Homo sapiens: one gene and its partners. The protein of the gene in region 1 interacts with the protein of each later gene in a pairwise test. Each region holds a gene or a part of one and is shown in the gene's direction. Other genes may lie near its edges. The genes, in order: CYB561A3, HERPUD2 and TM4SF18.

Region 1 (7,577 bases):
GGGTTTTGGGACCTGAATGACATGAAGCTAAAATTACCTAAAATTACCCACTGGCCCCATCAGTTGGGTTTGCAGTCCATAGTCAAGGCTTTCCTGCTCTAATACTCTTTTTTATTTTTAAAATTTCTTCCATACATAGTCCTATAGAAGATTCTCTGATACTCCTTATTTTTCGAGACAGGGTTTCATTCTGTTGCCCAGACTGGAGTGCAGTGGTATGATCACAGCTCACTGCAGCAACTTCCTGGGCTCAAGTGATCCTCCCGCCTCACCCTCCTGAGTAGCTGTGACCACAGGTGTGTGCCACTATACTCAGCTAATTAAAAAAAAAATTAGCTCATGCCTGTAATCCCAGCACTTTGGGAGGCCGAGGTGGGCAGATCACTTGAGGTCAAGAGTTTGAGACCAGCCTGGCCAACATGGCAAAACCCCGTCTCTACTAAAAATACAAAAAGTAGCTGGGTGTGGTAAATACATAGTGGGGTGTGGTAGCGCACACCTATAATCCCAGCTACTAGGGAGGCTGAGGCAGGAGAATTGCTTGAACCCAGGGGGCGGAGGTTGCAGTGAGCTGAGATTGTGCCACTGTACTCCAGCCTGGCGACACAGCTAGACTCCATCTCAAAAAAAAAAAAATAAAATTATGTTTTAATAGAAACAAGGTCTCACTATGTTGCCCAGGCTATCTGACACTCTTAAACATTTTTTTTTTTTTGAGATGGAGTCTTGTTCTGTCGCCCAGGCTGGAGTGCAGTGGCATGATCATGGCTCACTGCAACCTCTGCCTCCCAGGTTCAAGTGATTCTCCTGCCTCAGCCTCCCAAGAAGCTGGGATTACAGGCATGCACCACCACGCCCATCTAATTTTTGTATTTTTAGTAGAGATGGGGTTTCTCCATGTTGGTCAGACTGGTCCCGAATTCCCGACCTCAGGTGATCTGCCCACCTTGGCCTCCCAAAGTGTTGGGATTACAAGCGTGAACCACCACACCTGGCTTTTTTTTTTTTTTTTTGAGATAGGGTCTTTGTCACCTGGTTGGAGTGCAGTGGCATGATCATGGCTCACTGTAGCCTTGAACTCCTGGGCTTAAGCAATCCTTCCACGTCAGCATCCTGAATCACTGCGATTACAGGTGTGTGGCACCATGCCTAGCTAATTTTAAAAATTTTTAGTAGGTAGAGACAGGGTCTTGCTATGTTGCCTAGGCTGGTCCTCAAACTCCCAGCCTCAAAAGATCCTCCTGCCTTGGCTTCCCAAAGTCCTGGGATTATGGGTGTGAGCCACCGTACCCAGCCTACTAATAACTTTAAGACACTAAATCACCACTGTCAGGGCCTTTGAATTGCGTGGGTTCAGCTTTCCAGAGTGCCTTACTGCACGCACATGAAGAGCACAAGCTGGATGACAGGAGTCTTTTGGAGCAGTTCTGAGAAGGAATTGACAAAGAGGTCATAGGACAGCAGCAGGAACTGCAGAGAGAGCACCAGGCTGTAGTTACTGGTCTGGAGCATCTTCCTTCTGTTTTCTCGGGCCCCCAAGGGCACATCCCACAGTTCCCAGAAAACCGCTCCTGGCTGTCTCCCTACCACTGAGGGAGAGGCTTCTAGTTCCTTTGAATGAGAGCTGTTTCCCTTGCTCTAAGGCAAGCACCTGTTGGAGCAAAAAGATAAGCAAGGTTAGAAATGTATTAATACCATAAACATTTACTGAGGACCTACTGTGTGCCAGGTACCACTCCAGTTGCATGGGATACTTTAGTGAACAAAACCAACAACAAAAACCCCCAAGAAGTCATTTATTCTAGGACCTTCACCAGCTTTTCTCCATGCCTGGAATCTTCTCAATGCAGAGCTGTCTCTAACCAAAGGAATCTAGTAGTATTACTGAGAAGAATGACTGCCTGGTCATGTAGTAGCGGTGGTAACAAAAATGGCAGCAAATCCTTATACATTGCTTACAATGTGCCAGGGAGTGTTCTACAAGCACTAACATTATTTAAACCTCACAAGGTAGATGACATAATACATTATTACCTTCCCCATTTTACAGATGAGAAATTTGAGGCCAAGAGAGGTAAAATAATTTGTCCAAGGTCACGTCGTTAGTAAGTGGCAGAGCTAGTATTCAGATGCAGGCTGCACGGGTCCACAGTCTGTGCTCTTAACTACTGGACTAAGCTGTCTCTTACATAATTGATAGACTAGTATTTAACTAGGCAGGAAAAATGCCAGCAAAGAAGTGTGAAGTGCCCTAGGCAGAAAAAGCAGAGAGGAAACAGGGGTCTCCTGGAAAGCTTTATCTTTAGGGTTATGGTTGCAACACAGTGGCAGTTGTTTCTTTTCATCTATTCCAAGACCCACAAGTTGCTCTGGGGGTGTCCTATGACCCGCTGCTGTGCCAAATCTATAAAGAAATTTCAAAATGCTCTGGAGTGTTAGCGATTAAATTAGCATCGGTAAAATGTTTTGCAATTTATAAGCTCTTTTCATATTTCTAACCTTACGTAATCCTACAACCATCTTGAGAAGTAGCCATTACAATGTATATTATCCCCATTTTACACAGAGGCTCCGGAAGGTTAAGGCACCTCCTCCACCTCAGCTGGTGAAGTCCCACCTTATTGGACATATGTTCGCGGTTTCCTCATTCATTAAATTTTAGAGAGAGAGAGAGTGTCTCGCTCTGTCGCCAGGCTGGAGTGCAGTGGCATGATCTTGGCTCACTGCAACCTCCGCCTCTCGGGTTCAAGCGATTCTCCTGCCTCAGCCTCCCAAGTAGCTGGGACTACAGGTGCGTGCCACCACGCCTGGCTAATTTTTTGTATTTTTAGTAGAGACGGGGTTTCACCATGTTAGCCAGGATGGTCTCGATCTCCTGACCTCGTGATCCTCCCGCCTCGGCCTCCCAAAGTGCTGGGATTACAGGCGTGAGCCACTGCGCCCGGCCGCATTAAATAACACTGATAGCTACTACCTAGGTACTCACACCACGATAAACTTGTCAACCAAGATCGTTTCCTTTAATCCTCCCTACAAGTCTGCAAGGTGGGAATTATTCCTATTCTACAGGAAAGGACACAGAAGTCAGAGCTCAAGGCATTCCTCCAGGTCTCAAGTCAGCAGAACCCGGCTTCATAACTGTGACGCCAAACCCGTGCTCTTAACCACTACTCATAGGCCACCATCCAGGGCTGTTTTGAGGATCCGTTATGCAGAAACGCCCATGCCTGTCTCTACGTACGACGATCCCCTCCAGTTTAGGGCAGTGGAGACTCACAAGCTCATGAAGCTCTTTAATTCGTCCACCGCTACCTGCCGCCTTCCCTTTGTACCTAGGGCAGTATTCCTCACGCTTCCCAATCCACTTAAAAACGAGGCTTCCTTGGCAAACAACAACAAAGCATAAAACCCAAGCCCAAAACAACAGCACCAAAAATTCTGACTTCTGGTCACTTAACCCACTCCTCGTCAATCACTCTCACCTCCAAACTCCAACGTCGGTTGTCATGCGGACATCGTCCCGGCTTCCGGAAGCCGGCTTTAAATTCCGGAAGTAAATGGAGGAGGCGGGCCCCGTCTGCGCCGTGCGGCCTGCTAGTCCCCGGCTTTCTCTTCCCGCTCTATGGCCAGTCTGGCCGCCATGTTGGAGCTTTCGCTGTTCGGGGCCCGGCCTGCTCCGGGCCCTCCCAGCGTCGCCGCTAGCTGACTTAGGGCTCCCGCCCACACTGCGCACGGCCTTGCTGAGGGCCGGCTCGTAGTGGGAGGCTTCGCGTTCACCTGAACATTTCCGCCTCCTCTGGATGGGGGATGAGAGGCGGGGCTGATGCATCGCAGCAGTCCTGGACCCTGACTTCGGACTTGGAGAAGAAACGCCGAGGAGGAACGGGAGTTAGGGGGTTAGCAGCTTGGCGCGCTGGGAGCCGGCCACCCCTGGTCTCCGGACTTCACTTCCCAGGAGGCCTCGCGCGCGACTGGAAGTGCTGCGAGCCTATAAGAAGGCGAGGCGGCACCCGCCGCTCTGCTCTGGGGCGGCATTGCCAGCCGGCTGTAGGCATTCAGGGCAGTGTCTTCTGCATCTCCTAGGAACCTCGGGAGCGGCAGCTCCGGCGCCTGGTAGCGAGAGGCGGGTTCCGGAGATCCCGGCCTCACTTCGTCCCACTGTGGTTAGGGGTGAGAAGGATCCCGGGGCTGGGAGTTCAGGGACCTGGGTTCGAATGCTGGTTCCGCTGCTATCTCGCTTCGCACTGTCGCGATCCCCTTGCTCGGCCTCAATTTTCTCTTTTAGAAAGTGGGCACCTTTCTCCGCGCTCTTCCTTCCAACGCGGTGGTTATAAAGGCACGAAAGCTCTTCAGAGGACGCAGAAAGCACCTGGAGCTCCTCACCCCAATTTTCACCCATTGTTAGCTGGCACGAGCACCCAGCAGAGGAGTCAGGGATCACCCCTCGGGTGCCTGGAACGGTTCTTTGGACACCTGAGCCGGACCTAGGCACAGCCTGAAGTCGGGGTCTATAATTATTCCGGTGCTAAGGGGTAACTTGTTCACCTACCTCCTTGGCAGGAATATTGAGCCCTTCACTCCTCATGTTCCGACTTTAACAGAAGCTACCTTTGAGAATAAGGAATCCTCAGAGCTGAGAGGGAGTGGACCCGAATTCCTGTACCAGCTCGGCCACTTACCTTGGCTAAGTCATTTTCTTGTTTTGGGCCCCAGTGTCACAGTGTTTTTGATTTGTAAGATGAGGGTTTAGGGCTTGTATCCTAAATCTGGTCCTCAAGATTCTTGAAGTCCCCCAGTCCATCGGGGAGGGAGAGCAACAAACTGATTTTCTACCCCTTCATTTATTTGTAGTTCTAAATTATAAAAGTAACACTGCAAGAGTTTGGAGTAGAGCCTTTTTCTTTTTCTTTCTTTTTTTTTTTTCTGAGACAGAGTCTCACTCTGTCGCCCAGGCTGGAATGCAGTGGCACGATCTCGGCTCACTGCAACCTCCGCCTCCCGGGTTCAAGCGATTCCCCTGCCTCAGCCTCCCAAGTAGCTGGGATTACAGGCGCCCGCTACCGCGCCCGGCTAATTTTTGTATTTTTAGTAGAGACGGGGTTTCTCCATGTTGGTCAGGCTGGTCTCGAACTCCTGACCTCATGTGATCCGCCCGCCTCGGCTTCCCAAAGTGCTGGGATTACAGGCGTGAGCTACCGCGCCCAGCCTGCGTAGAGCCTTTTTCTAAGACTAAGGGCTGGATGGGAACTAGCATTTCTTACCCCTGGATGTGACCTGTTTTAGCTCAGCCGGGAGAATCCTTTTTCGCAAGAAGTTAATAATATCTTGTGACGTGAAAATTATGTGAAACTCAGACTTCAGTGTCCATAAATAAATATTACTGGAACACAGCCGTGGTGCTCATTTGTTAAGATGTTTATGTGGCTGCTCTTGCATGGGCAGAGTTGATGACATAGTTGTGACAGACCATGTGCTCTACAAAGCCTAGAATATTTACTACCTGGACCTTTACAGAAGAGCTTGCTGACTGCTCCCTTAGAATGGGGCTCTGCAAAGTGAGCACACCCTGGGATCACAGCCCAGCCTGCCCTTAGAACAAATGAGAGGATATTTTCAAGCATTTGCATTGCAGTTTTCACGGTTTTTTTGTTTTGTTTTGTTTTTGAGACAGAGTCTAGCTCTGTCGCCCAGGCTAGAGTGCAGTGGTGCGATCTCGGCTCACTTCAGCCTTCTCCTGGGCTCAAGCCATCCTCCCACCTCAGCCTCCTGAGTAGCTGAGACTACAGGTGGATGCCATCACGCCCAGCTAATTTTTTTTTTTTTTTAAGAGATGAGGGCTCACTGTTGCTCAGGCTGGTCTGGAACTCCTGGGTATTTATTTATAGACAGAGTCTATCTCTGTTGCACAGGCTGCAGTGCAGTGGCGTGATCTTGGCTCACTGCAACCTCTGCCTCCTGGGTTCAAGCAATTCTCGTGCCTCAGCTTCCCGAGTACCTTGGACTACAAGCGCATGCCACCGTGCCTGGCTAATTTTTGTATTTTTAGTAGAGACGGGATTTTGCCATGTTGGCCAGGCTGGTCTCGAACCCCTGACTTCAGGTAACCCACCTGCCTGGGCCTCCCAAAGTGCTGGGATTACAGGCATGAATCACTGTGCTGGTCCTTCACTGCATTCTTCCTTTTCTCCTGCTTTGCTCTATTTCAGGAAGTAGGAGGGCTTATCTGTGTATTGTGAGCAGGGCAATATAACTTTGCAGCTCTCTGTCAGGAAAGTGTGCCCAGGGTCTATTCTAAGTCTGTCACAGAGCAGTAAACCAGGACCTTTTCTAGGGTGTGGCTACAGATCCTTTCGGACTGCATTTACTTTTTCCTCTTACAAAGAAAAAAAAAACAGTTGTGGAAGTAGATATTGTCAGATGAGTGAGCCTGCTGATCAAGATCTCTTACATTTCACTGAGGGATGGAGAGTGTTTTAGGTGAATATCTGGTGATCTGAAACGTCCTCTGCCCTTGGAGGAATTGAGGAGGCAGTTCTGAGGCTGGGTAGCAAATCTCTGAGTTAAGTAGTTGAGTCACAAATCTTCTAGGAGGCTGGTGGCATGATTTTCTCCTGCCAGCTTCATGGAAGCTTTTTCCCTGCAGCCCTTGGACCTTCTTTTCTTTTTTTTTTTTTTTTTTGAGACAGAGTCTCACTCTGTCCCCCAGGCTGGAGAGCAGTGGCGCGATCTCGGCTCACTGCAACGTCCACCTCCAGGGTTCAAGCAATTCTCCTGCCTCAGCCTCCCTGGTAGCTGGAATTACAGGCGTGCGCCACCACACCCAGCACATTTTTGCATTTTCAGTAGAGACGTGGTTTCACCATGTTGGCCAGGCTGGTCTCAAACTCCTGACCTCAGGTGATCCATCCGCGTCGGCCTCCCAAAGTGCTGGGATTACAGGCTTGAGCCACCGAGCCTGGCTGGACCTTCCTTTCTCAGAGATTACTGCCAACTTGGGTCACCTTGTGCATCTTTACCTAAGTAGGTGGACCCCTAGCATGGGGAGAGCTGGCATGGCATGGCTGAGGGCCACTGAGAGGCCTGGGCAGGCACAAGGAACATGAGCTGCATGTTAGTAGTTAGGATGAAGTGCATGACAGCAATGACTAAGAATTCTATGTATATATATATATTTTTAGATGGAGTCTCGCTCAGTCGCCAGGCTGGAGTGCAGTGGCGTGATCGCAGCTCACTGCAACCTCCACCTCCCGGGTTCAAGCGATTTTCCTGCCTCAGCCTACCGAGTAGCTAGCTGGGACTAAAGGCGCGCGCCACCATGCCCAGCTAATTTTTTATTTTTAGTAGAGATGGGGGCGGGGGTTCACCATATTGGCCAGGATGGTCTCGATCTCTTGACCTTATGATCTGCCCGCCTCGGCCTCCCAAAGTGCTAGGATTACAGGTGTGAGCCACCTCACCCAGCCTTTTTTTTTTTTTTTTTTTGAGATGAAGTTTCGCTCTCATTGCTCAGGGTGGAGTGCAATGGCACAATCTTGGCTCATTGCAACCTCTGCCTCCCTGGTTCAAGCAATTCTCCT
Region 2 (4,627 bases), on another chromosome or scaffold:
CACTGATTCTCTTGCCCACTGTGAAGTCTACATCCTTGTCCTTCCTCCAGACCTTTCCCCATAAAGCTAAGCTGCTTTATGAACCTCGTATCCTAAGGCTCTCTTTCATAAGCCCTTGGCTCCAGACAGGATGTTCATACCTTACATGTTGCCATGGTAATGGTTATCATTTGAGTGACTGCTTTGTGCTCAGTACTCTGCTGGATGCTGTACCCCACCTTGTCTCGTTTGTGAACCTCACAAGAACTGTGTAAGATAAGGGGGGCTTATTATGCTTGCTGCTAAATCATATACTCTTATGTGCATCATTTAACTTGAGAGCCTTAGTTTCTCCCCTTTAAAGTAATGTAACTCACCTGTGTATCAGAATATTCATGAAGTAGGAAGTGTTTTCTAAACTAAAAAGCCCTATACAGGTACAAGGTATTAGCATACTGGCTTAAATAGGATTTTGTAGCCTGGGAACCACTTATTTAACTTTCTTGTGCTCTCTTGATTATTAACTTCTTATTGTAGAAAAATTTAAAAACATAACAAGGTAGGGTAGTAAAAGGAATCCATGTGTACCTATCACCCAGCTTTGACATTTATCAATTCATGTCAGTCTTATTTTACAACTTTCTTCCTTCTGTTGGATAATTTAAAGCAAATCCAAGATATATTATCACTTTACTAGGAAATTTATTCTTTACTGGGAAATTTTAAGCAATCAAATTATATAAGCAAACCTCAGAATCACAATTCTTTCTAACTTGACAAGGATCAGTGGTCCCCAGTTGGAGTTCTTCCAAATCAGTATTGGGGTGGAAGGGTTGTTATCTGAGATGTATTTAGGATTTTAGGATACTAATACAAATCATTTATCACTGACAGTAGACACACAGTATAATAATAGTATATATTTTTAGACAAGCCTTTCAAAACGTGGGTCTGAGGGAGAGGTAGGTGGTGAGCTTGGGAGTATTCATCCCATGTAGAATAACAAAAGGGGGCATTCATGAAAAGGTTTGGACATCTCATTAGCTGTTAAGGTAATTTATTGAAAGAGAGAGGAGTGGTTAACATGGCTGCTCTCACGTCTTTTGCCTTCCCCTGTCATCTTACAATAGCAGGCTGAGAGAACATCCTTTCCTGTGCGACATCTACCATCAACCTTGGCTCCACTTTTCCATTGGAATTTGTGCTTACCTAAGAAATGTGGTGCAGGAGTTGGGATATTCCATATTAGGTTTATGAAAAATACATATAGCTCCCCAAGAAGTTTAAAAAAATATGGTATGGTAAAGTTTTTTTTTCTTTTTAATATTTATTTTGGTGACTATTTCAGTCAAGCTGCAGTTTCAGCTCAGGCCACATCAAATGTCAACCCAACCCAGCCTACTACTTCACAGCCTCTAAATTTGGCACATGTTCCTGGAGAAGAACCCCCACCAGCTCCAAACCTAGTGGCCCAAGAAAATCGACCCATGAATGAGAATGTTCAAATGAATGCACAGGGAGGTCCAGTACTAAATGAAGAAGACTTCAATCGAGACTGGCTAGACTGGATGTACACGTTCTCACGAGCTGCGATTCTCCTTAGCATTGTATACTTCTATTCTTCTTTTAGTCGGTTTATCATGGTAATGGGAGCCATGCTACTGGTTTATTTGTGAGTGATGTTCATTAACTTTTTGTGGTTTAATTTCTGCAACTGTTCAGCACAGAATCTGGTGTAGGGTAGTCTGTTGTGAATGTTGAGTGAAGGAATATGAATGCTGGGCTTTAGATATCTGGCATGTTTTTGATGCCAAAAGCAAGGGAAGGTTTTGTTGAGTGAGAATGTTTATCAGAATTATTTAGAAGCAGATTTTTTGTTTACTGTATTTTATAAAAGTTGTTCATTCAGTGAGACATACTCTATCCATTATTTCGAACTTAACAAGTGTATGATGCACTCCTGCATAAGGTCATCCTCTTTCATTAGAATTACCAATAGTAAGTTCTATAGGTATAAGCCAGATTTTTTTCATAAGTAGACTATTTTTCCCCTGCTCCCTTCTCTCCAAGGGGCAAACAAATATCTAAGTTGTATTTCATTTTGAAAAGTACCAGAAAAGATTTATGATTCCTGATATGTTTTAATAACTAACATAGAGCCAGTGGAGTCCATGATAGACTTAGAGATTTGGGTTGGTTTTCTTTTGCTGTCGTTGCTTTGAAAAGGGTAGTTCCCTGTCCTGAAGTGGGAGATTTGGTCTTTTTATTTATTATAGTTTTAATCATTTTTCTCTTATAGGACACTAATAACATTTTATAGTGTTACAAATAAAAACAACTGTGACTTATTTTATTTTCTCTTTATTTTACTGAACAGACACCAAGCTGGATGGTTTCCTTTTAGGCAAGAAGGAGGTCATCAGCAGGCTCCCAACAATAATGCCGAAGTTAACAATGATGGGCAAAATGCAAACAACTTGGAACTTGAAGAAATGGTATGTGATTGAAGCTTTTGTATACTTAAGATACTGAGATTTTCCCAGCACGGTATGGGACCAACATGATGAAAGAATGTTGGATGTTCCATAAGTATTTGTGAAATGGCACATGAAAGAAAACTAACATATAAATTGTGGTGGTTTCATTTGGGAGAACTTAGAATATTATACTGAATCAGTCATATATTATAACTAAATGGGAAGAAGTAACTTTTTTTTTCTTGAAAATAGCCTAGAAATAAAATTATACACATGGTAAGAATTTATTGTATTGCATTGGCAGTTGTCCCCTTTACGGAACAGTGAGGAATTTATCAATTTTGGCCTTAAAGATTTCTAATGACCACATACATACCACTTCATAGTCCTTTGTTCTACAAAGAATTTAACTGTATTCTATTATGAGCTAATGCTCGTTCATATCACTCAGGAGTATCTTTCTTGTTTTGCTTGAAAGGAGCGTCTTATGGATGATGGGCTTGAAGATGAGAGTGGAGAAGATGGAGGTGAAGATGCCAGTGCAATTCAAAGGCCTGGATTAATGGCTTCAGCTTGGTCTTTCATCACCACCTTCTTTACTTCACTAATACCAGAGGGGCCTCCCCAGGTTGCCAATTGACCTGAAAAACTGTGCCAGCTACAAGGAGGGTCTGACTTCAGGAAAGTGGTTTAAATAACAGTGCAATTTCAAAAAAATTTATAACTTTCTTTTGATCATCATGTACAGAGGTGTTTTTTTTCTTTAGGCTTCTCATGCATATGAATATTTTAAGCACGAATGGACTACTAAATATCTGAGTTTTTTTTTTTTTTTTTTAAAGATCCTAACAGAACATAGCGTAACAATATTGGTCTTCCAGGTGTTACTCATTTCAATTATGTGTAGTATACCAGGACAGACCTATTTTCATGTCTTATTTCTTTAAAGAGCTGCTTCATTGGCCGGGCGCCATGGCTCACGTCTGTAATCCCAGCACTTTGGGAGGCCGAGGCGGGTGGGTTACTTGAGGTCAGGAGTTCGAGACCAGCCTGGCAAACATGGCGAAACCCCATCTTAACTAAAAATACAAAAAAATTAGCCGGGTGTGGTGTCACGCGCCTGTAATCCCAGCTACTTGGGGGGCTCAGGCAGGAGAATTGCCTGAACCCAGGAGGCGGAGGTTGCAGTGAGCTGAGATTGGGCCACTGCACTCCACCCTGGGCGACAGAGTGAGACTCGGTCTCAGAAAAAAAAAAAAAAGAGCTGCTTCACATATAAATGTCTATAGCTAGTAGCCTGGCCCTTTAATGTTTAATTTGAATAGATATATCTGTTTTCCGTGAATTATCTTGAAAGTTTTAAACAGAATGACCTCATAGTTTTTAATAAAGAATATTATTTACCTAAAATGTGCTAGTAGCATCTTGCCCAGCCATAAAGCAATAAACTTCTCAATAATCTTAATTTTGATATTTGAATAAATAATGGAAACTTTCTGTATTAAGGGCATGTATCCCATCAATTGGAATCAGTACCTTAACAGAAAAAGGCAGCTCTTCAATGGAATTAACGTGATATAAAATGTTTGATATAGGCAGTACTTTTATAAAAAAAGATAAGCTGGAAATTGCTCCGTGTAATTTTTTAAATAAAAAGTCAATTATGGTAAACAGTTTTATGGGATATTTGTTCAAACTCTTCACCCATTACATGCAAACATTTATGTAAATTTTAGTAGTTGTTTGGAAGGGTTGCTGAAGTCTTAAAGGTCATTTACACCTCTTTCCATTCCAGATGGATATCTCCTAGTTAGATTGAAACCTCATTAGTTTATTTAAAAATCCCTGTGAAAGCCAATTTAATGTATCATGAGAAGGCAGTAAGTTTCTTATGGGATAGCTAAATAAAACAAATATGTGTGGGAGAACTTTATATCACATGAAATACATTATAAAATTATGAATGTGGTAGTGGCCCAGGGGAAAAAATATATATATATGATTATATATATATGATTATATATATGATTTATATATGATTATATATATATGATTATATATATGATTTATATATGATTATATAAAAATTTGTATATTTTTATATAATTATATATAATTATAATATATATTTATATATATAATTTGTATATATTTATATATAATTTATATAT
Region 3 (7,650 bases), on another chromosome or scaffold:
TGATACAGACAAAACACATTGAAACAATTTAAACCTGAGATGGTTTGAATGCATGGGGAAATTGAAGTCACTTTAAAGAGATATGGTTTCAGATTAACTGAGCCTCTCACCTCCATTCCCAGAGGACAGTAAATGAAGAGAGGCTGGCAAACTACCAAGCCTGCTGAATGATTTTCCTTGGTTCTCCACAACTGAGTCATTGAGAAAGGCAGGTTTTGCTGCCCAGGGTGGTATTCTCCTGTCCATCCATTTACTTCTCCTTAATCATTAGCTTTTGATGGTTGCTAACCATGATAATAATAGCTAACATTTATCAGTCACTATGAATCAACCACTATACTCAAAATGTCACATATATTACCTCGTGACGATCTCTTGATACCATTTTATACAGAAGGTGTCTCAAATTCACACAGCTAGAAAGTGACAGAGCTTGGATTCAAATCCATATCTACCTGACCCCAGACTCTATGCTTGAAGACGCTGTCCTCTGATTATAAGCACAAATGTAAACTAGCATTTCATTGCTAACATTTTATGTCTTCCCTCCTATAGATGCTTATAGTAACAACAGTTCTTCTGGTACTGGAGAATAATAACAACTATAAATGTTGCCAGAGTGAAAACTGCAGCAAAAAATATGTGGTAAGAGCAACAGTTTTTTTGAGGATGGTTGAGTGGGCTCCAGCTTTCTTTCCTCTCACTCAGAAACACAAAAATATTGACAGTATTATACCCTCACTACTGTTGAGTACAGTACAGAGATCAAGAGTTTACTGCCAAGATCATCTTCCATTTTGCTTAGTCTTTCCTCCACTTTTGTTCTACTGATGCACTTTCAGAAAATCAGCATTTAAAGATACCTAAAATTAGGAAATAATACTTTTTTTTCCTAACTAAGTTTCCATTAGTCTATTTTTTCTTTACAAACTTTATTGAGGGCTAAATTACATATAATAAGTGGCATCCATTAAAATTATGCAATATCATGAGTTTTAACAGTTGACTACACTCATGAAACCACCATTGCAGTCAAGATAACAGAATATTTCTGCCAACCCCCAAAGATTAACCTTTGATTTACTTTTTGTCATTATAGATTAGTTTGTATTTTATATATGTGGAATCATACAATATTTGTCTTTTTTATCTGGGTTTTTTCATCCAGGATAATAATTTTTAGATTCATCCATATTGTTGGGTGTATGTGATGTGCATTTTCTAAGTTGGCACTTGAAAAATAATTAAAATAGTATCAGGGTGAATAATACAACCGCATTTTCTAAGCCAGTGCTCCTGCATTTCTACCATTCTCCTTCTCATCCTCTTCCTCCTCTTCATCGTTTATTCACACTTGCATAGCACTTTATAGTTCTTTCACATTTACTCAGTGAATTAAGTCATTATTGCTCCTATTTTATAGATGAAGCACTTGTGGCTCAAAGAGAACAAGTGATTATTAGCTAGGAGGAGTTTTATGATGATATCTGGTAGGCATTTTTTGCAGCAGTGCTTCTACCTGTTAGCTTCATATTGCAATCACCTGGGAGCTTGGAACAACACTAATGCCTAAATCCCATCCCCAGAGTCCCTGATTTAGTTAGTCTGAGGTACAACCTGGGCATGGATATGTTTTAAATCTCCCCAGGATATTTCAATGCGTAGTCAAGATTGTATGGCAAATTTTCTTTGACCAATGTCTTTTAAAAATTAAATTCGTTGCTTTATTTAGTACTGTGTCCCTTATGGAGAAGAATTGAAAATTTAAAATACACTCGTGTGTGTGTGTGTGTGTGTGTGTGTGTGTGTGTGTGTGTGACCAGTTGACTCAGTCATCCTCCAGTAGCTACTTGTAATATACTTATGGAAGAGATTTCAAAATTGCCTAGGGGAAATAATAAATTCAGGTATAGATTCAAGTTATGATACTCAGAGAATTTCTAGAAAACAAATATATGTGATATTAAGTGTAAAATAAAAATTCACATGTTCAATTTGCCTTAACTCACTATTAGCACTTCTAGCACAAATAGATGCTAGAAATAGTCTGAAAAGGGTCTTATAATCAGCATTAAATTAGATGACTAACATCTCATTGGGAACAGCAGGAGAAAGAAAGAGAGGATTCTCCGGGTTCCCTTTTTGGCCTTTTCAAGGTAAGTTCTAGAAGAGAAGTCCCAATTCAAATGCCCCCAGAAGCCACGTGTGTGACATAAATGAATTAAATGAGCCTGGTAGGCATCAGAGCACAATTTCCATCTAAGGAGGAGAAGGAGCTGCTACTGAAGTCCAGCCAGTTGTTGCCATGATCAAGTAGGGCAATAATTCTCAGTTTTCAGTAGAAAGTAAAAATATGGATTTTTATGTAAAACTTTTCAATTGTAAAATATTGGCAATTAATCTTCATTTAAACCAAACAAAGTACATATTGTGGGAAAAACTGAATCTGCATCAGTTTGTAACTTCCAAAATGTAATAAAAATTGATTCATTTCTTGGTTGTTATCTGCTATGGCCTGAATGTGTTCCTCCAAAATTCACATGGAAACCTAATTCTCACTGTGGCGATATTAAGAGGTGGGATGTTTTTGGAAGTGACTAAGTTATGATGGCTCTTCCCTCATGAATGAGAGTGGTGCCCTTATAAAAGGGGTTGAGGGGAGTACTCTTACCTCCCTTGCACCATGCGAGGACACATAGAAGGTGCCATTTATGAGGAATGAGCCCTCACCAGACACTGAATCTGCCAGTGATCTTGGACTTTCCAGCCTCCAGAAGTGTGAATAATAAAATTCTGTTATTAATTACTCAGTCTAAGGTATTTTTATTATAGCAGCAGGAACTAAGGCACTCTCCATTCCTGCATGGAGTCTGGTTTTCTGCCAAAATTCTTGGACAATTATTCCTGGAAAGCAAATATTGGCCAAATAAGGGCACTTGAAATAATAGCTAATATTTTATTATATTTTATTTTTGAAATTGCCCTGTCACATAGGTACCATTCCTGTCTACATCATCTACAGTTTACAGAAAAGAAAACTATGATTCAAATTCTTATTCCCACTTTATTTTGAGGCTTACCTTGATAGTGCAATGGTATCCACTCATTAGATTGTAGTGTGTGCGTGTGCATGTGTGTGTATGCTATGGCTGCCAGTTTCCCCCAATGAAGAAATTCTTCACTGATCTTCCCAGTGAATATTTTTTCCAGTTTTCCATAAAGAGGATATATTAATGTCATACTCAGTGAAATAATTTTAAACAAAGAAATGTTATTGAGATGATTTTTATTCCTAAAATCACAGGTTTGTTGGTCTTACTTTTTCTGGTCTCAGCTTTTGAATTTATTATCAATTGGTTACTGCATGTTACTATTCTGCTGCCTACTCTCACCCTGCAATCAACATTTCTAAAGCTAATTTTTCCCCCAAACCAAATAACCTTTCTTGGTATCCTTATTTCTGTCTCCTTTTTATCCAAGCCCCAGCTCTGGATTTTTTTTTTTTTTTCATCTCCAGCTACTCATTTCCTCCTTAATGTGTTTTCCTCCAATGTGTGTCTTTGTCACCTCAACTTGCATCTGTCTCCAAGCTGGATCCTTATCTTTGAGGTCTCTTACTTCCAGCTTGTGTGACCACTGCCAGAGCAATCTTCCAAAAGCACATTTTGGGCATATCACTTCCTGCTCAAAAACCAATTACAAGACTTGTTTAAAAAATAGTTTCTGGCCGGACACAGCGGCTCATGCCTGTAATCCCAGCACTTTGGGAGGCCAAGGCAGGTGGATCCCCTGAGGTCAGGAGTTTGAGAGCAGCCTGGCCAACATGGTGAAACCCCATATCTACTAAAAATACAAAAATGAGCTAGGCGTGGCGGCACGTGCCTGTAGTCCCAGCTACTCAGGAGGCTGAGGCAGGAGAATCGTTTGAACCCAGGAGGTGGAGGTTGCAGTGAGCCATGATCAGGCCCTGCACTCCCGCCTGGGTGACAGAGTGAGACTACAACTCAAAAACAACAACAAAACAACAACAACAACAAAACCCCAGCTTCTTCCAGGTCTATGGCAGGGTAAGCTCAAAATGAACCTGGAACATCTTGTGCCAGAAAGCAAGAAAATGTTCAAAGAATGACATGAGTATGTCAAAGGGCATAGGAGTTGACCTACAGGGATGTTCACATTGGCCGAATTTGGACCATCTGTGCATCTAAAAGAATAATCGCATTTATGGATTATAGCACAATGAATTAGAAGATCTGTGAGTCCAGAAAATATAGACAGAGGCAAAGGAGAGAGGAATGGGAAATGGAAGTTGTTCTGTGCAGAAAAATGATAACATAAATGCAGATAAATTATAGCATTATGAAAGCAGCACATTGGAACCACAGTGATTGCTGGTAATCAATGAATATGAGGATCATCAGTGGATGCTAAATCCATCAGTTGAAATGTTATTAAGAAACAGAATATGACACTGTCTCAAAGCATCACCTTGGCAGTTATTTACTAATTGCCAAGAGGAAAATGTACCTATCCAGGGAAGAGATCTGAAGGATACTCTTAACCAAGAGATCAAACTTAGCACCACCCTTAGCATGAAAGGCCCACAATGTACACCACACCCATTAAGTATTCTCGCTAAAATGTTTGAATTCAATTGTGAGAAAATAATCAGAAAAGCCCAGAATGTGAGACATCTACAAGACAACTGTCAGGGATTCTTAAAAACAGTTTAACACCCCAAAAAACAAAAAGGCAGAAAGACTAGTGTAAATTAAAGGAAACTAAAGAGATGTAGTCTTGTACATAAACCTTTATTGGATCCTGTACAAAAAAAATTTAAAAGTTACAAAATAATAGAATGTTTTTATTCTTAGGAGGTGTATGCTGAAATATTTAGGGGTGAAATATCATAATGTCTGCAACCTAATGGCTCAGTAACAAAAACACATAATAAATACATATTTGTATATATGTACAGGTGTACATATATACTTTGCATGAATATATACACACATACACACAGAGAAAGAGAGAAAGCACAAACAAATATGGTAAAATATTCATGTAGGTGATTCTAGATAAAGGATATGTAGGGGTTTATTGTGCTATACTTTCAACTTTTTTGTAGATTTGACATTTTTTAAGGTTGGGAGGAGGGAAGTCCCTTGCCCTGAAGGATAAAGTCCAGATTTCTTAACCTGGCATTCAAGGCCAGCTCTGGCCTGGATCTACCAAGCTGTACTCACTTTTTAAGCTACTCAAGGGCTGAATTGTGCCCTATCAACCTTGTTTTCCCAGCATTAGTACCATGTCAATCTGTCTTCAGAGCCTTTCTCCTCACTCATCTGAATAAACCCCTCTTAGATTAAACCTACTTTCTCACAACTCTGGTTGCACTGATCTGCCTGTGAATAACACCCATTCTCTCTACTCAAATGAAAACACCCCCCTCTCCATCAATCCTATCGTCACTTGAATATGAATATAAATTTCAATACTATACCTGACATTTTCCTTTATATTGTTGTAAAGATATTTTAATATCTTTATAAGAGGAAAGCAGAGGTCATAGCTTATAATTCTTAGAGAACCCACTCTACCTAGAAAATAACAGGTCTTCAATAGATAGTTATGGGTTGATTGATCACATCCTTCACTGCATTTTCATAAGAGGAGATCATTATTTTGATATCAAAATTCCACAAGGAAAGAATAAATTTAGTAAATTACCTAGTTACCTCTATGTGATGCCAAACTAAACGTTATTTAAAAGCTTATTTTTAAGATCAAATAGGTTTGGATTACTTTTTTTTTTATTTCTATGTGGGCATTTAGTATTGTATAGACTGCATGAGCTTGGGTGAATAGGGGAATGTAGCTATCTGATAATTTATCCACAATATCCCCTTGTCGCATTCTATGGTACTAACCTGCTTCTATGTTTTAATTTAGACACTGCTGTCAATTATCTTTTCTTCCCTCGGAATTGCTTTTTCTGGATACTGCCTGGTCATCTCTGCCTTGGGTCTTGTCCAAGGGCCATATTGCCGCACCCTTGATGGCTGGGAGTATGCTTTTGAAGGCACTGCTGGACGGTAAGGAATAATTCCCCAAACCAAGGAGGTCGGAAAATCAGAAACACCTTGCCTCATGCTCAAGCTCACGCTCATTTTCCATGATCACTTTGGGGTTCCATGTGGCTGTTTTAGTGCAGAATTTCCCTGTTAGTTTACTAATATCCAGACCAATTTGTTCTTGCACAGATCTTTGTTTAGATTTTTTTCTTCAGTCTTTTAATGCCATTTTCATTCAATGTCTTGAGGTTGTCATGGAGCTATCCAAATGAAAGGTGTGTTTCTCCCATACCTCAGATTAAAGTTGTGTGGTTACTATGGTCTGGTCTGGTAACAGCTGGAGCTTATGGACTGGGTGGATCCAGGAACTCAGTTTTGTTTTATGGCCAGGTTGGACATGTGGTCTGTTACAAGTGTAAAAGGGCTTGAGGAGGAGAGAAACCATGGTGCTCTTGGATGGTGCCACTCAGGGCTATAGTAGGAGGGATGATAAAGAGATAGAACAAGGCAGGATGAGCAGGAAAGTACAGTCTGAGGTCCAGGAACATGATTAGGTGCAGGAGTTTGTGGAATGAGCCAGAGCTTATGCAGCTTATACTGGAGAAGGGTCTAAAGAGGTAGCCTTGCTCAGAAGGCTAGTAATTCAGTCAGGAGTCTCACAACCCAATCCCGGATCTCAGAATGCCTCACACTGGCATTGTGCTGGGCTTATTGGGTTCCCAGCACCAGATGCAGATTAGGAGGTAGCAGGGCCCAGAAAGAAATACAGAAGAGGTCCAGAATTCTAATGGAGTAAAATGAGGGAATGTCTGTACCATTCACTGGGGGAAGTTAAATTTTCTTCTCAACTCTCCATGATTAGCTTTATTGTTCAAGGCCCATGTCCATCTGAGGTCTTACATGTGCATCTAGGCCTACATGGCAGAGCTGCTTCTGTGACTGTAGCTGCCTTCATTCTGAAGATTTTTACATGGTGCCATATACCATGACCTTTCTTAGCAAACATGACTCTCCCTCAGGTCTCTCCTACTTGCATATCCATTTATAGGCTCTCTGCAAGAAGAAAAATATGGCTCTTTTTGCCCAACCCCACAGGCAGTCAGACCTTATGGTTGTCTTCCCTTGTTCCCTAAAAATCTCTGTTATTCTGCTCTTTTTCAATGTGCACTGATTTCATATTGTTCAAACCACATGTTTTACAATCAATTTGTACAGTTAACACAATTATCACAGTGGTCCTGAGGTGGTGTACATCCTCAACTTATGAAGATAACAGGATTAAGAGATTAGAGTAAAAACAGGCATAAGAAATTATAAAAGTATTATTTGGGAACTGATAAATGTCCATGAAATCTTCACAATTCATGTTTCTCTGCCGCGGCTCCAGCCAGTCCCACCATTTGGGGTCCCCGACTTCCTGCAACATTGCAAGTCATCTTGTTTTAAATTGCTAGATGATCTGTGCAGAGCATGTACTAGGAACAGTCTAGAGGAGGGATCTGGAGGGACTCATTTCCCTGGCAGCTGAGATGGAGATAGGGGTAAATGGGGGTATGAGATAGGTTTAGGGAAATTT

Evidence for each region.
Region 2: the proteins of CYB561A3 (region 1) and HERPUD2 interact in binary tests that used the Homo sapiens proteins (3 or more experiments, as listed by UniProt).
Region 3: the proteins of CYB561A3 (region 1) and TM4SF18 interact in binary tests that used the Homo sapiens proteins (3 or more experiments, as listed by UniProt).

What each region holds. Positions count from the first base shown.
Region 1 is NC_000011.10:61,358,326-61,365,902, reverse strand, and holds the start of CYB561A3 (lysosomal membrane ascorbate-dependent ferrireductase CYB561A3), read left to right. Parts: upstream 1-4,020; 5' UTR 4,021-4,170; intron 4,171-4,560; exon of another isoform or gene 4,561-6,477; intron 6,478-7,577. Other genes in the region: TMEM138 (transmembrane protein 138), read right to left, coding at 1,385-1,512. UniProt on the Homo sapiens protein: Transmembrane reductase that uses ascorbate as an electron donor in the cytoplasm and transfers electrons across membranes to reduce iron cations Fe(3+) into Fe(2+) in the lumen of the late endosome and lysosome.
Region 2 is NC_000007.14:35,632,159-35,636,785, reverse strand, and holds the end of HERPUD2 (homocysteine-responsive endoplasmic reticulum-resident ubiquitin-like domain member 2 protein), read left to right. Parts: intron 1-1,327; coding exon 1,328-1,651; intron 1,652-2,356; coding exon 2,357-2,474; intron 2,475-2,934; coding exon 2,935-3,096; 3' UTR 3,097-4,127; downstream 4,128-4,627. UniProt on the Homo sapiens protein: Could be involved in the unfolded protein response (UPR) pathway.
Region 3 is NC_000003.12:149,323,325-149,330,974, reverse strand, and holds part of TM4SF18 (transmembrane 4 L6 family member 18), read left to right. Parts: intron 1-555; coding exon 556-645; intron 646-5,952; coding exon 5,953-6,095; intron 6,096-7,650.